Regions from separate parts of the Homo sapiens genome. Here region 2 is linked to region 1. The links come from fine-mapping of genetic effects on gene expression. Tissue or cell type: whole blood. Region 1 holds a variant in brackets; the other region holds the start of a gene. All regions are shown on one strand. Distances are from middle to middle.

Region 1 (2,684 bases):
GTGTAATCCCTTCCAGTGAGAAAGAAGAGAGAAAGCAGAAAGGAAGGGAGGAAGGGAGGCAGGCAGGCTACAAGGAATGAATCTGGGGGCCTGCCAGTTGAGCCATCTGCCCTGTGGTCAGGGCAGCTGCTGGCCCGGGCTCAGGGTGCCCCTCTGAATGAAGGAAGAGGAAGACTCAGACAGCACCCCACGGCCCAACCTCATTCCATCCCCACAACTCAGGGCACGCCTGTGACTGACTTCCTTCCTCCTGAAATTGGCCCCCCTGGGGATAGGAGCCCATCCTCAACCATCCAGGGCTCTGTGGGAAACAAGGTTTGAGTCCTTCTTCCTGGCTCTGGGGACAGAGTCAGATACCATGCGCCAAAGGTTCAAGATGGTTCCATTTTATTTGAAGCAATGTGTTTCTGAAGAACCTACACAATTCTATATGTACATTTATCAAAACTAACCTTTCACTTAGGGGGGTGTGTGTGTGCGTGTATGTGTGTGTGTATGTGTATTGTATGTGTGTGTATGTGTGTGTCTATGTGTATGTGTGTGTATGTGTGTATGTGTCTATGTGTATGTGTGTGTATGTGTATGTGTGTGTATGTGTATGTGTGTATGTGTATGTGTGTATGTGTATGTGTGTATGTGTGTGTATGTGTGTATGTGTATGTGTGTATGTGTATGTGTGTGTGTGTATGTATGTGTGTGTGTATGTATATGTGTGTATGTGTATGTGTGTGTGTATGTGTGTGTGTGTGTGTGTGTCATACCTTTCCACTTGAAGACCGTCTTTCATTTTCTCCACGACCTTGTGTCTTCTACCTCACAGATTCTCAGACATTGACTTGTTTGAGTTTCTCAGCTCTGGCACTGGCGCTGCTACTTAAAGCATGCCCATCTCTCACTGTGATAAGCGCCAAAAAGCAGTGTGCCCACGGAAAGCACTTGCAGAAGTGAGGTGCTGGGACACAGCTGCCAGGATTGAAGATACTGAGGAAGGAACGGTGCCAACAATTTGCTGACTGCTTCCATGG[C/T]GACACCGTGTGGCCATGTTGTGCCATGTGTCCACACGTCTGAGACCTGTCATCTTTAAGATCACTCCTAGTAATTTAAAAAAAAAATTTGAAGTGAGACACATTATCTTCAAAAATTGTGCACAAAGTGAGGCCTTATGAGCGGTTTTTAGCATGCAATTTTAAATTCACGTGTCTATACGCCTAAGACCTGTCATCTTTAAGATCACTCCTCCAAATAATTTTTTTAAAAAAATTTGAAGTGAGACATATTATCTTCAAAAATTGTGCACAAAGTGAGGCCTTATGAGCGGCTTTAGCATGCAATTTTAAATTCACATAATTTACACATATAGAAAATAAGAGCACACCAGGAGAAATTAGAGCGTAGTTACAGGAAAAGCCGTGCCGACCTCGGTGTGGCTAGAGGGCCAGTCTTCTTCTTTCCCACCTGTGGTGGGATGCTTGTACCAGAGAAGAGAACCTCTCTTCAGAGCAGGTGGCAGCTCCAGTCATGGTGGTTGTGCTGGACGGATGCTGACTGCGAGCCAGCCTCTCTGTGGAGTGCTGCGTGCATGTACTTATTTACTTATTCATTCTGTAGTTATTTATCTTGCTCCTATATGGCAGGCACTCAGGATAGAGGGGTGAATGAGAAAGAGGTTCTTGCTCCTGTACAATCTATTGGCTTCCCTCCAAGGAATGTACTATGTTTTTTGTTTGTTTTTAGAGACAGAGTTTTGCTCTGTCGCCCAGTCTGGAGTGTAGTGGCACAATCATGCCTCACTGCAGCCTCGACCTCCCCGGCTCAACTTCCTCCCACTTCAATCTCCCTGGAAGCTGGGACTACAGGTGTGCACCAGCATGCCTGACTAATTTGTTTATTTTATGTTTTTGTATAGACAGGGTTCTTGCTATGATGTCCAGGTTGGTCTCAAACTCCCGGGCTCAAACAATCGTCCCGCTTAGGCCTCTCAAAGTGCTGGGATTACAGGTGTGAGCCACCGCGCCCAGCCTGTAAGAGTCCACTTGTAAGAAATGTCCAGAAAAGACAAATTTATAGAGACAGACAGTACATTTGTTGTTACCAGGGCCTGTGGGTGAGAATGAGGACTGACTGTGCAAACGGGCATTGAGTTTTCTTTTTGGGCGAATGGAAATGTTATAAAAGTCAGATTTTGGTCCTTCCACACCCATCCCAATTTGGGCCTCCCGTCTGGATTACAGGAAACTCCTCCTCCTCCTCCTTCGACTTCTTGGATACTGGAGCCTGAGCTGAAGAATGTTTTCATTTCTTTGCCTCATGGCCGCCTGTTACCTCTCCCCAGCGGAGAGGCAGCTTGCTTGGCTCCTGCTGACCCCGGCAGGGAGCCAGGTGCCTTGGGTGTCAGCTCCCGTACTGGCCGTGGCGGCTCTGAACTCGGCACCTGCTGACTGGGGTAAGGCTCTGGTGATCCTGGGCCCGGGTATAGGTGCTCATGCCACCCCCACCCCCCGGGTCAGCTCCTCTGTACTCTGGGCCCACGTGGAGGCTGGTTCTCCCTGGCCCTGAGAACACCGTGGTGCCTCCTCACTTGGCTTTGGCTGACATTCTGGGGATTCAGAGCTAGACTCTGGCTGTCTTTGAGGGGACTCCAGGTGTAGATCTTGCTGATGCTCGGGGGACCCTGGGCTTGGCTC
Region 2 (2,684 bases), 22 kb before region 1:
CCTCCTCCAGGGTTCCCCTCCCGGGTCTCTCTCTTCCTCTCCAGCTACTCAGCCCAGCTCAGACACTGCGCCCAGGTGCCTGTCCCATGTCTCCTCCAGGATAAGCGTCTCCCATTCTACAGCCCTGCAGTCCAACCAAGGTCTACCAGCCACTCGACAAATACATCCTGAGCACCTGTGGGAGCCTGGTCCTGGGCTGGGTCCAGGAGGGCCAAGGGCAGCGCCCTGATCTGGCCTGCCCGACTCGGAGGCCCAGATAGATGTTCTCCTCCCTCCTCCCCTGGTTGAGCCAGACCTGCCCCCTCTCCTGTCCTCTGCCCTTCAGCCAGTGGACATACAGGTGGTGAGCAAAGGCAGGCTTTGTCAGGCTTACTTTGGGCCTCCTGGGGACCTTGGGGAAGTGACACATGTCCTTGGTCTAAGCTTCTCCATGTGTAAAATGGGTCTGACACTCCCTGTGAGAATTACAAGCATGTAAAGCCAGTATTTAATTCCTATGGCGTGCAGAAATGTTGAGGTCCCCGTCGCTGACTTCAGGGCTTCAGACACTGGAACCCCTGACCCCGCCCTTACACCCTTTGATTTCCAGGGACACCAGCTCCGTGGGGACTCCCAGCTCATCTTCTCAGCTTCCTCCCTGACATCTCCATCCACTCCCTCTGCCGCCCGCTCATCCCCCACAGTCCCTCTTTCCAACCCCTCCGCCTCCGCTTCAGGTCTGCGTCTCTCCCCGCCAGAGCCACATCCCAACACAAACCGAACCCCGCCTCTCCTGTGCAGGGGACCCTCCCGCGGGGGCCTCTGCTCCTCAGCTGGCCTTCGAGGCCCCTGTCCCCTCAAATCCGGGGACCCCTGGCCTTCCGCCCCTTCTGCGGCGCTGACAGCCCGCGATTCGCCTCCTCAAGATTCGTCTCAAGTGCCAGCGTGCACCTGCACCCGTCCGCCTCGGGCGCGCGGTGGTCCCCGGCCCCTGTCCCCGCCGTCGCCGGCCACGGGGAGGGGGAAGCCCGCCTCGAGCGCCCTCTGGGGGACCGACCGCGAGCGGAGGCGCTGGGCGTCGGGAAGTGCGCACCCAAGTCCGGGGCCCGGCCGGGATGGATCTCCGGCGCGCGTGGGTCGGGACGGCGCGGCGCGGGGACCCCGCGGGGAAGCGAGTAAGGGCGCGAAGGATCCGGGCTCAGCGCGCAGCCCGGCAGGGCCCGGCTCCGAGGACGCGGAGCCACCGACGGAGACGCGGATTCAGGGGCCGGGAGAGCTACCCCTGCGCCGAGGCGCGGCCCGGCCGCCCTGGCCCTGACCCGGCTGCGGTCCCCGCCCGCCCCTTCCTCATCCCGAGGTCCCGCGCCCCAAGCGCCGTGCTCCCCTCAGGCGTCCGCGCACCAGGGCCACCGTGTCCCCCGCCCGTACCCGGCGGAGCGGTCTCAGCGCCCGCCCCAGGTGCGCGGTACCCCCTCCCCGGCCAGCCCCACGCTCGGGCGGGTGGCCCGTTCGCCGCGCTCACCGTCCAGGAGTCCCAGGCAGAGCCACAGTCGCAGGCACAGCGCGGCGCCCCGCTGCATCTCCGGCCGCTGCGCGTGGGTCCGACCCGAGCGGCCGCGGCTCGGGGCTGAAAGTGTCCGCGCGGGCGCCGGCTGGCCTGGGGCGGGGCGGGGCGGGGCGGGGGCCGGAGGCGGGCCCGGGATTCAGGCCGCTCCCCGCGCCCCCCTCCCCCCGTCCCTCCCAGCCCGCCGCGGGGCGTCCGGTGCACCCGAGCAGTGCGCGCTCCGCACCACAGGGTCCGGGCCCCCTCCTGGGCGGCTCCGGGCGCGGGGACGCGGGTAACGCAGACGGTCTCGCGATGCGCTCCGGAGGTGATGGAGCCTGGTGGGCAAAGGGGAGCAAAATGCGGCACGCGCTCTTTTCCGTCCTTTCTTTCCATCGGTAAAATCTAGACTAAACAAGAAAGCAATCCTTGTAAAAATAGTATGTTACATCTTTGAAAATAGTGGCACCAGCCGGCGTAACATAGGGAGACCCAGTCTCAAAAATAAACAAGCAAATAAATAAAATAATACGCCGAGCTTGGTTGTGCGCGCCTGTAATCCCAGCTTCTCGGGGGGGCTGAGGCAGGAGAATCGCTTGAACCCGGGAGAAGGAGGTTGCAGTGAGCCGAGATCGCGCCACTGCACTCCAGTCTGGGAGCCAAAAAAAAAAAAAAAAAAGCAAAAACAAAACCCGTTCAGCAGTGTTTACCTGCACAGTGTCGACGGACAGTGTCGACGGAAGCCGCACCCGTGAGCGGGACACCCGGGATGACCGACCCCCTCCCTGCAGGCCTGGCCTCCTAGCTTTAGAACTCCCCCAGATGTTTTGTTCTCAGCTCAATCAGGACCCGCCCCCACCTTTTTAATAAAGCGACACTTTGCTTTTGCTTTCTGACTTGGCAACCCTCTTACAGACTTCCGTTCTCTTTTCAGTTTGTCTCTAGAATTTTCCTGTTTAATAATGAAGCCCATGACCATGACTGTCTCAACCTCCTTCCCTGCTTTTCGTTTCATTCACATTTTCCATCCCCCCACCCCCGCCCCCCAAAGCCCTTTCATCCTCGCCAAAAAGCAAGAGTAGATTTTCAATAACCACTACCAGCTCTCTCCAATCCAGGTAAGAAGTGGCTATATTATTAAGCTGGAATCACAAATCAGTGC

The links. PIP is the estimated chance that this variant, and not a neighbour inherited with it, causes the effect.
Region 2: it holds the start of FLT4, and the variant in region 1 is fine-mapped to the expression of FLT4 in whole blood (TOPMed, PIP above 0.99).

What each region holds. Positions count from the first base shown.
Region 1 is chr5:180,669,715-180,672,398 of GRCh38, forward strand. It overlaps the pseudogene LOC100420514. Among named protein-coding and RNA genes, the nearest start is that of LINC02222, 13 kb to the right of the region's middle. The variant C/T (reference allele first, on the strand shown) is at 1,026.
Region 2 is chr5:180,647,987-180,650,670 of GRCh38, forward strand. It overlaps FLT4 (fms related receptor tyrosine kinase 4), which reads right to left and starts at 1,614. Exons shown (of 30, transcript NM_182925.5): 1 at 1,502-1,614. The coding sequence starts at 1,559.